Homo sapiens: one gene and its partners. The protein of the gene in region 3 purifies or fractionates together with the protein of the main gene of each other region. This does not show direct contact. Each region holds a gene or a part of one and is shown on either strand. Other genes may lie near its edges.

What was found.
Region 1: the proteins of EML2 (region 3) and TTC38 fractionate together in Homo sapiens (co-fractionation; one large-scale study listed by BioGRID). This does not show direct contact.
Region 2: the proteins of EML2 (region 3) and DHTKD1 fractionate together in Homo sapiens (co-fractionation; one large-scale study listed by BioGRID). This does not show direct contact.

Annotation. Positions count from the first base shown.
Region 1 is NC_000022.11:46,281,486-46,285,208, forward strand, and holds part of TTC38 (tetratricopeptide repeat protein 38), read left to right. Parts: exon of another isoform or gene 1-113; coding exon 114-233; intron 234-485; coding exon of another isoform or gene 486-527; exon of another isoform or gene 528-664; intron 665-2,487; coding exon 2,488-2,547; intron 2,548-3,723.
Region 2 is NC_000010.11:12,092,954-12,096,453, reverse strand, and holds part of DHTKD1 (2-oxoadipate dehydrogenase complex component E1), read right to left. Parts: intron 2,382-3,500; coding exon 2,183-2,381; intron 1-2,182. UniProt on the Homo sapiens protein: 2-oxoadipate dehydrogenase (E1a) component of the 2-oxoadipate dehydrogenase complex (OADHC). Participates in the first step, rate limiting for the overall conversion of 2-oxoadipate (alpha-ketoadipate) to glutaryl-CoA and CO(2) catalyzed by the whole OADHC.
Region 3 is NC_000019.10:45,615,301-45,619,023, reverse strand, and holds part of EML2 (echinoderm microtubule-associated protein-like 2), read left to right. Parts: intron 1-1,326; coding exon 1,327-1,394; intron 1,395-2,170; coding exon 2,171-2,259; intron 2,260-2,465; coding exon 2,466-2,563; intron 2,564-3,134; coding exon 3,135-3,222; intron 3,223-3,723. UniProt on the Homo sapiens protein: Tubulin binding protein that inhibits microtubule nucleation and growth, resulting in shorter microtubules.

The DNA of each region.
Region 1 (3,723 bases), on a different chromosome or scaffold from region 3:
CTCCACCCCGTTCAGCCCAGGCCCCTCTTGCCCCTTAGAGACCTGCCGTCGCCTGCCCCGGCAGCCTGACTGATCTGCTTTATCTGGAATCCTCTTCCCCGCACCCTGCGTAGGCTTTATCTATTAACCCGACAGACGCATGGTCGGTGCACACCGTCGCTCACATCCACGAGATGAAAGCAGAGATCAAGGATGGGTTGGAATTCATGCAGCACTCAGAGACCTTCTGGAAGGTATGATGCTTGTCAATGGGTCACCTCCCTGGGAAATTCAGTGCATCCCCTTGAGTCAGGCCAAGGCTTTATGGACAAGAGTTACAGGGCATGGCTTAATTCTCGGGGTTCCCTCTCCTCCTCCACCTGCACCTGCCTCAGGTGTTTGGCTGCTGAGCAGAATGCAATCAAGATTCCAGTCCCCACCCCAGGCCCATACCTTGCCCTAGGGACTCCACTGAGGGTCCAGCCCAGACTTCTCTGTCCTTACAGGGCCTGGTCAGGAGGAGCGAGCAGCCTCTTCAAAGCACATGAGCTGCACCATGACGGGGACCCTCTGTGGGATGTGGAAACGCAGAGGAAGCATTAAACTCAACTGGGCTTGGGGGGACAGTGGCTAGGGAAGGCATCCTGGAGGGGGCAACCTCTGAGTTGGCTACTGAAGGATGAGCAGGTGTGTGCCACACAGAGGGGGAAGATGGAGGGCATCCTAGCCCGTCACTAGCTTGAGCAAGGCCTCCAAGGCCTACAGTGGCCTGTGAGGGAGAGGAGAGCTGCTTACTTTGGTGTCCTAGAGCCCAGGTACAAGGCGGACATGGGCTGTGCAGGAGGCCTTGTCAGTCCCTCTTTCCAGGGGAGGCAAGGTGGTGTCCAGGCAGAGGCAGAAACGCCTGCAGAGGCCTCAGGGAAGGAAAGGCTAGCACCATGGTGGAGGTGGGCCCTCTGGACAGACGGGGCTGCATCAGGTGAGCCTATTGGGCTCAAGGGAGATGGGGCCTCCCCTGGGACAGGGACACAGCGTCGCTCACTCAGCGTTTACTGAATACCTGCTTTGTATTTGGGGCAGCAAGAAATCAGGGAAGGGTGTGCACTTGGCTCCCAAGCAGGGGCCATGCAGTCTGAGCCTTGCTGCGGAGGATCCTCGGGCCTCCAGATTCGGCTCTGTCAAGGGGGCAGTGGTCAGGTTCCCTTCTCAGGGACACTGAGGTTTGTTTGAGGTTTCTGAGTGCTGGGCACTCTAGCTTGTTGAGGATCACGAGTCCAGTCTCCTGAGCTTGGAAATACCCTAGCAGGGGCCAGCTCTGAGCCCAGCACAGGTCCTACTTTAACACTGCTTCATACTGAGGGCAGCCTAAGGTAGCCACCCACATACCACCCACTCCCCTGGCTCTCGGGGCTTTGCCAGCACCTGTTGGAGTGTGGCCCTGGGCCTGTTGATCTCTGCAGGTTTTTGTTTTTGTTTTTTTTTGAGACAAGTTCTCTCTCTGTCGCCCAAGGTGGAGTGCAGTGGCACAATCAGGGCTCACCGCAGCCTCGACCGCCTGGGCTCAAGCGATCCTTCCACCTCGGCCTCCCAAATAGCAGGGACTACTGGTGCGTGCCACCACACCTGGCTAATTAAAAAAATTTTTTTTTTTTAGAGAGACAGGGTCTCTTCCCTATGTTGCCCAGGTGGGTCTTGGACTCTTGGGCTCAGTTGATCCTTCTGCCTCGGCCTCCCAAAGTACTGGGATTACAGGCATGAGCCACTGTGCCCGGCTGATCCTTGCAGTTTTATCCAAGTGCCCTGAGCTGTTTAGGCACCCATGGGCCTCGCACCTCCCTGTGGAGTGGTTCTGTTAATCCTTTTCTCAACTTCACATGTGAGGAAGGCAAAGCTGGAGTTGCTGAAGTAACTTCCTCTGCACCGGTCCTGGGGCTGCTGCTCCCCAGCTCAGGCGAGTAGGTTGGGAACCTCCCCTAGCCTCAGTTTCCTCCTTGGTAAATGCAGCATAATTTCTTCACCGCCCTTCGGAATGGAAGAAGATTATGTGGCCTGGAGGCACCTAGTGCAGAATATTGTTTCCTGCACTCAAAGATGATGGTTTCTGTGGCTAGGCGCGGTGGCTCATGCCTGTAATCCCAGCACTTTGGGAGGCTGAGGCGGGCGGATCACCTGAGGTCAGAAGTTCGAGACCACCCTGGCCAACATGGTGAAACCCTGTCTCTACCAAAGATACAAAAATTAGCCGGGTGTGGTGGTGCACACTTGTAATCCCAGCTACTCAGGAGACTGAGGCAGGAGAATTGCTTGAACCCGGGAGGCAGAGGTTGCAGTGAGCCAAGATCGTGTCACTACACTCCAGCCTGAGCAACAGAGCCAGACTTAGTCTCAAAAAAAAAAAAAAAAAAAAAAAAAAAGATGATGGTTTCTGCATTAGCACAAAACAACATTTGTTTTTTTCCCATAGGCCTTCAGACTTTTCATAAATTCTCTTTTTTTTTTTTTCTCCAGGACTCTGATATGTTGGCTTGTCATAACTATTGGCACTGGGCTTTATATCTGATTGAGAAGGTAAGGTGACCATCTGTTTGCACTGTCTTATCCTATAAAGATGTCTAGAGGGAGAAAGATTTTTCTAGCTTTTGCTATGTATTCACATCCGTTGGAGCCCTGATGCAATGGAGCATTAACATTTCCAAAGAGCACTCTAGGCTTCAACCTTTTTAGGGATTTTTTCACTGTGGAGGCCTGGAAATCACATCTGTGGTGTATAACTTGCAGAGACCATTCAGAGCGAGTGCCTGTGGCTGGAGTGGAGAGCCAAGCCCCAACTCCGCAGGGTGTACCTGCCTGGGCCATGAGATCTTCCAACGGGAGCCAGGCTATGGGGCAGCTGCTCAGGACACCCTTGACCCCAGTGATTCCGCCACAGGGTTCCATGTACAAGACTGTCACTTGCAGTGCTCCTTATCGTGCACAAAAGCTAGAAGCTCCCTGAATGTCCATAAAGTGAGAAATGCTGAGAACATGAGGGCCTTGTCATGACATGAGAATGTGATGATACAGTGTCTGGAAGACAGCACAGAACCCAGCTAAATGTACAGGAGAGGAAACATATGCAGAAAAGAAAAAGGCAGCTGGGCACAGTGGCTCATGCCTGTAATCCCAGCACTTTGAGAGGCCAAGGCAGGCAAATAACTTGAGGTCAAGAGTTTGAGAGCAGCCTGGGCAACATGGTAAAACCCCATCTCTACTAAAAATACAAAAATTAGCCGGGCATGGTGGCGCCTCCCTGTAGTCCTGAGCCTGAGGCATGAGAATCGCTTGAACCTGGGACGCGGAGGTTACAGTGAGCCGAGATTGTGCCACTGCACTCCAGCCTGGGTGACAGAGTGAGACCCCATCTCAAAAAAAAAAAAAAAAAAAAAAGAAAAAGGCTAGAAAGAAATACATGAAAAAGCTTGCAGCAGTTAGTATGAGCAATACCTATATTAACTTTCCACTAGGAGAGAGAATGCTTCCACAGCAACTGTTTCTTCAGTGGTGGCGGCACAGGTGCTGCTGTGCTTTCTACACTGGGGAACCAAAGCCCCGGTTGGAAGCGGGTTCACCTTCTCCCATCCCGAATGCCACCAAGACACCGTCCGTCCACCTCTGAGAGGAGGTGGAGGCCGGAGACCATGTGCTCAGGGGTCTTTGGCCTGGCCGTTCTCAGTTCACGTGCCAGCATTACACTTTGCCTTCTCC
Region 2 (3,500 bases), on a different chromosome or scaffold from region 3:
TGATCATACCACTGCACTACAGCCTGGGCGACAGAGCAAGACCGTGTCTCAAAAAAATAAATAAAATAAAATAGAACCCTGAGGTTCACTGAGTCATTCAGCTGCTAAATTCAGAGCTAAACAGAACACAATTAGTTCTTCTGAGAGCAGTCCTCTTTCTGGTACCAAGGATCAGAAACGCTCATAAAACGTGTATTCCTCTGCTTTAATTTATATCTATAAGGAAATAAACTTGGAGGAGGGGAATCTATTTTATTTTCTAGTATCTAGAAAAGGAAGTTCCAAAGTAACAAATTCCCCCTCCGTCACATTAACCATCTGAATCAGCACCATGGGACAGAAATGAAATGCAAGCCATGAGTAATTTAAAATTTTCTGGCAGTCACGTTAGAAAAGATAAAAAGAAACAGGTGAAATTAATTTCTTTTCTTCTTGTTTTTTCTTTGAGACCGAGTCTCGCTCTGTCGCCCAGGCTGGAATGCAGTGGCACAATCTCAGCTCACTGCAACCTCCGCCTCCCCAGTTCAAGCGATTCTGTTGCCTCAGCCTCCCGAGTAGCTGGGACTACAGGCACGCGCCACAACGCCAGCTAATTTTTCTTTTTCTTTTCTTTTCTTTTCTTTTTTTTTTTTTTTTTTTTTGAGACGGAGTCTCGCTATGCCACCCAGGCTGGAGTGCAGTGGTGCGATCTGGGCTCACTGCAAGCTCCGCCTCCCGGGTTCACGCCATTCTCCTGCCTCAGCCTCCCGAGTAGCTGGGACTACAGGCGCCCGCCACCACGCCCGGCTAATTTTTTGTATTTTTAGTAGAGACGCGGTTTCACCGTGTTAGTCAGGATGGTCTCGATCTCCTGACCTCGTGATCCGCCCGCCTCGGCCTCCCAAAGTGCTGGGATTACAGGCGTGAGCCACCGCGCCTGGCCAAATTTTTCTATTTTTAGTAGAGATGGGGTTTCACCATGTTGGCCAGGCCGGTCTCAAACTCCTGACCTCAAGTGATCCACCCACCTTGGCCTCCCAAAGTGCTGGGATTACAGGCATAAGCCACCATGCCCGGCATTTCAATAACATATTTTATTTAAGTCAATATACTCATTATATTGTCATTTCCATATCTAATAAATTTAAAAATATTATTTTGGGTTTATATTTTACATGCTAAGTGTTTGAAATATGGTGTGTGTATTATCCTTACAGCACATTAATCAGGACTGGCCACTTTTCAAGTACTCAATAGCCACTGATGGCTAGTGGCTTCCATCTTGGACAGCATGGTTCTGAACATTCATTAGAATCTTCTGAGTTACCTCTCACCAAGGTGCCAGGCAGGTCTGCAGCTATGGTTTGTAGAAATGAATCACTGAGGTTCTATTTCTGGTCCTGCCGACACTGCAGTAAATAGATTTGGGCGAGGTTTGCTTAATTCCCCCTGCTTCAATCTTCCCATCTGCTGAGTTTTCTATTGCCCTTTTTCTATTCAATGAGGAACCATGTCAAGTGTGAAGAGTATGGGAGGCCAGGCACGGTGGCTCATGCCTGTAATCCTAGCACTTTGGGAGGCTAAGGCAGGTGGATCACTTGAGACCGGGAGTTTGAGACCAGCCTAGCCAACATGGCGAAACCCCTGTCTGTACTAAAAATACAAAGATTAGCCAGGCGTGGTGATGCATACCTGTAATCCCAGCTACTCAGGAAGCTGAGGCACAAGAATTGCAATTGCTTGAACCCAGGAGGCAGAGGTTGCAGTGAGCCAAGACTGTGCCACCTGCACTCCAGCCCAGAACTGTGTCAGCTTTAGCTCTTAAAGTTTCATGTCCTGCCTGGGCATGGTGGCTCATGCCTGTAATCCCAGCACTTTGGGAGGGCGAGGCAGGCAGATCACCTGAGGTCAGGAGTTTGACATCAGCCTGGCCAACATGGCAAAACTCCATCTCTACTAAAAAGTATGAAAACTAGCCAGGCACGGTGGCACACGCCTGTAATCCCAGCTACTCGGGAGGTTGAGGCAAGAGGATCACTTGAGGCAGGAGGATCATTTGAACCCGGGAGGTGGAGATGGCAGTGAGCCAAGATCGTGCTACTGCATTCCAGACTGGGTGACAAAGCAAGACTCCATCTCAAAAGAATAATAATAGTAATTTTAATTTTTAGGGGGCATATCACACAAGGGTTTATAATTGTACCTGATGATTTTGTACATGATGGGGTTGGTGTAGAATGGCTCATCCAGCTCATTGTGGCCCCACTGCCTGTAGCACAACAGATCAATAATCACATCCTTGCGGAACTGGCGTTGGTATTCAAAAGCCAGTCGTGTGGCACGGACCACTTCCTCTGGGCTGTCTCCATTGACATGGATGATGGCACAGCCCACAAGCTTCCCTGAAGGACAGAAGACCAAGCCGAAACAGGACAGTTAACCCAGAATGACACTGGCCCTCTCTAAGCCCTACTTCCTGCATCAAAAGACAGCCCAATCCTCACAGGTAGATATTGGTTTGGTTAACAACCCCAGCTTTGGAGACCAGCTGGCAAGTTCCAACTCTGGGACTTATTGTGTGACCTCGGTAAAGCTACAAATCTCAACCTACTTATCTATAAATCGGGAATGGGGCTCCTACCTCTTAGTGATGTTGCAAAGGTTCGATGAGTGAATGCACAAACAATTGTAATGCCTAACAGTGCCTGGTACATAGTAGTTAATATTTATTTTGTTACTGTTATTATCATTACTCTCTTTCTCCCTGAGATAAAAGGGTCATTAAAGGATGTACCTTAGAAAAAGATAAATTTGCTCCAAAGAATCTTCATCAGACTAATCATAAAGGATTCACATAGACAAGCCCAAGAGGCATCCAGTCCAGGCTGTTTGTATAAAAGGAGAATAGTTGCTACCATCAAACAGCCTTGTAAACTGTGAAACTGGGAATGGGTAATAACAGCACTGTCTTTATCTTAAGATGACCAATTTCAGCCTGGCACAGTGGTTCACGCCTGTAATCTCAGCAGTTTGGAAGGCTGAAGAGGGATCACACAAGACCAGAGGTTCAAGACCAGCCTGGGCAACACAGTGACTCAATCTCTACAAAAATTATTTTAAAAATTAGCTGTGGCCAGGTGCAGTGGCTCACGCCTATAATCCCAGCACTCTGGGAGGCTGAGGCAGGTGAATTACCTGAGGTCAGGAGTTTGAGACCAGCCTGACCAACATGGTGAAACCCCGTCTCTACTAAAAACACAAAATTTAGCTGGGTGTGGTGGTGGACACCTGTAGTCCCAGCTACTCGGGAGGCTGAGGCAGGAGAATTGCTTGAACCCGGGAGGTGCAAGTTGTGGTGAACCGAGATGGCGCCATTGCACTGCAGCGTGGGCAACAAGAGCGAAACTCCATCTCAAAAAAAAAAAAAAATTAGCTGTGCATGGTGGCATGTGTCTGTAAATCGCAGCTACTAAGGAGGCTGAGGAGGGAGGATCTCTTGAGCCAGGGATGTCAAGGCTGCA
Region 3 (3,723 bases):
CAGAACTACCTTTCCCCCTGTGTCAGGGCTCAGCACATTAGACTGAAACCAAACAAGGTCTTTTTTTTTTTTTCTTCGAGGTGGAGTCTCGCTCTGTCACCCAGGCTGGAGGGCAATGGCACGATCTCGGCTCACTGCAACCTCCGCCTCCCGGGTTCAAGTGATTCTTCTGCCTCAGCCTCCCGAGTAGCTGGGATTACAGGTGCACACCACCATGTCCAGCTAATTTATGTATCTTTAATAGAGACAGGGTTTCACCATGTTGGTCAGGCTGGTCTCGAACTCCTGACCTCGTGATCCGCCCGCCTCGGCCTCTCAAAGTGCTGGGATTACAGATGCCAGCCACCAAGCCTGGCCCAAACAAGGTCTTTTTAAGCAGGGTGGGGGTTTCATCTAGGGAACTGGGTGCTTAGAAGCTCTCTCAGAAGGGTTGGAGGAGTAGGTTCTTGACTGGAAGGGAGCCCAGGACGACACCGAACCATCCTGTCAGGGGTGCCGCCATGAGGAGGGGGGAGTCAGGAGCCGCTGAGTTCAAGGAAGGTGTGACCGCTGCAACAGTCAAGTGTAGAGCTACACTGTCCCATAGGGTAACCACTGGCCACACATGGCTATTCACAATTAATTAAAATGTAAACAGAATAAAAATTTCAGCTGGGTGTGGTGGCTGACACCTGTAATCCCAGCACTTGGGAGGCTGAGGCAGGTAGATTGTGTGAATCCAGGAGTTTGAGACCAGCCTGGGCAACATGGCAAAACCCCATCTTTACAAAAAATGAAAAAAAAAAAACAAAAATTAGCCGGGCGTGGTGGTGGGCGCCTGTAATGTCAGCTACTTGGGAGGCTGAGCCAGGAGAATCGCTTGAACCCAGGAGGCGGAGGTTGTAGTGAGCTGAGACCGTGCCACTGCACTCCAGCCTGGGCAACAGAGTGAAACTCCATCTCAAAAAAATAAATAAAAATTTAAAAAATAAAAAACAAAAATAAAGTCTTAAAATTCTAGATGCCCTTTGTCCCAGCATTCCCACATCTAGGAAATTATCTAAAGAAGTCGTCTTGGATGAATAAAGCTGTGGGAATTTAGAAGAGGAGTAAGGAGGGATCCCGGGACAGGAGTGACAGGAGGAATGGTTTCTGTTCAGGTTAACATGCTACAGAAATGTAAAGAGGAATGGCTGCCATGGTGTCTGGGGTGGGGGTGTCCCAAAGGGCAGCAGAGGGAGGGGAGAGCCCTCATGCAAAGATTAGACTTGGCCCTGAGGCAAGAGAATGTCCAGATGGACATGGGACCCCAGCTCTGAGCCCTGCCTCTTCTCTCTCCCTTCTCAGGACCCTGCCCGCTCAGCCGGCTTCCACCCCAGTGGCTCTGTCCTGGCTGTGGGTACAGTGACTGGCAGGTAAAGCTGAGGAGAGCATTTCGGGAGGCCTTCTCTGCTCCCTGGGGAACTGGCCCTTCTTCCCTCTTTCCTACTTTCCCAAATCCCACTATTTACCGAGCCCTGATCCCTCAATATTCCTCTGGCTCACTGCAGCCTCTGCCTCCCAGGTTCAAGCGATTTGCCTGCCTCAGCCTCCCGAGTAGCTGGGATTACAGGCGCCCACCACTATGCCTGGCTAATTTTTTTTTATTTTTAGTAGAGACGGGGTTTCACCATGTTGGCCAGGCTGGTCTCGAACTCCTGACCTCAAGTGATTCACCTGCCTCAGCCTCTCAAAGTGCTAGGATTACAGGCGTGAGCCACCGCCACTGTACCTGGCCTTGTTTTGTTTTGTTTTTTGGGGGGACAGAGTCTTGCTCTGTCGCCCAGACTGGAGTCCGGTGGCGCGATCTCAGCTCACTGCAACCTCTGCCTCCCGGGTTCAAGCAATTCTCGTGCCTCAGCCTCCTAAGTAGCTGGGATTACAGGCACGTGCCACCACGCCTGGCTAATTTTTGTATTTTTAGTAGAGACGGGGTTTTGCTATGTTGACCAGGCTGATTTCGAACTCTTGACCTCAAGTGATCCACCCGCCTCGGCCTCCCAGCGTGCTGGGATTATAGGCCTGAGCCACCGTGCCCAGCCCAGGTCACTTCTGGGGTCCCTCTGATCCCTCCCTTAGACCCCACAGATTGCGGCCTCTCTCTGTCAGATCAGCTCACCCCTCCTCCCCCCACCACGCCCTCTCCTTCAAGATGGCTGCTGCTGGACACGGAGACCCATGACCTGGTGGCTATCCACACAGACGGCAATGAACAGATCTCAGTGGTCAGCTTCTCCCCAGGTAAGCGGCAGGCCTGGGACACCCAAGCGGCAGGGCCAGGGGACAGAGGCTCAGAGCTCTTGGCAGGGGGAGGGGTGGAGCCTGCGAAGCGAGGCCTAGGAGGGATGCAGTGGGGATGGAGCTGGGGACTGTTGAGGGGGCTGAGTCTGGGCGAGGAGGGGATGGAGCCTGGGTGCCTCCTCATAGCCCCCCTCCCCCTCCCCCAGACGGGGCGTACCTGGCCGTGGGCTCCCACGACAACTTGGTGTACGTGTACACGGTGGACCAGGGCGGCCGCAAGGTCAGCCGCCTGGGCAAGTGCTCGGTGAGTGGGCAGTGGCCCCCAGCCCGCGCCGCCACCCCGCCCAGGGGGTGCAAAATTAACCAATTTTCTACCTCAAGGGAGCGCAGCTTCAACACTCAACTGATTCTGCCCTGATCAGAGCAAGGAGTCTTGGCCACGTCCACACATTCACCACCTCGTGTGTTCTAAGCCCGCCCCTTTGTGTAGCCCCGCCCCCACGTGCTAAGCCCATCTGTGTAGCCCCGCCCCTCACGTTCCGAGACCGCCCCTCACGTTCCGAGACCGCCCCTCTGTGTAGCCCCGCCCCTCAACATTCAAAGCCAGCTCCTCCGTGTCTAGCCCTGCCCACCTGTTCTAAACTCCCATTGTGTTCTAAGTGCTTTTTGTCTAGCCCTGCCCATCACAGTCTGGCCCCGCCCACAGTATTCTGGCCCTGCCCCCATACTCCAAAGGCCTGTGTATCCTTCCTTTAGTCCCCTTGTGTTCTCGCCCTACCTCTGTATTTGACTTCCACTTTCCTGATTTAATCCTGTCCCCCTCTCCTTGGTTCCGCCCTCTGCAGCTCTAACACCATCCCTTCCCTCCCCCGCAGGGCCATTCCAGTTTTATCACCCACCTGGATTGGGCCCAGGACAGCAGCTGCTTTGTCACCAACTCCGGGGACTATGAGATTCTGTACTGTGAGTTCTCCGGGACCCAGAGACATTACTTCCTCCGTCTCATTTGCAGACTTCCCTGAGTTCTGGGAGGGGAGGGAGGGGCTTCAAGCCTCGCTCCCTTGGTATTCAAGGCTGGTTCTGATTTGGAATTTAGGGACCGCTGGCTTCTCATTTTCTCCCTGGTATACCCCACTTTTAGTCAACTCCTCCCCTTTCCGGTCGGATGGGTAGGATGCAGGTTTCTTTTTTTACATTTTTAAATTTTTAATTATTATTATTATTATTATTATTATTATTATTATTTTGAGACGGAGTCTTGCTCTGTCCCCCAGGCTGGAGTGCAGTGGCGCGATCTCGGCTCACTGCAAGCTCCGCCTCCCAGGTTCAAGTGATTCTTCTGCCTCAGCCTCCTGAGTAGCTGGGATTACAGGAGCACACCACCATGCCCGGCTAATATTTGTATTTGTATTTTTTTTTTTTTGAGATGGGAGTTTCCCTCTTGTCTCCTAGGCTGGAGTGCAA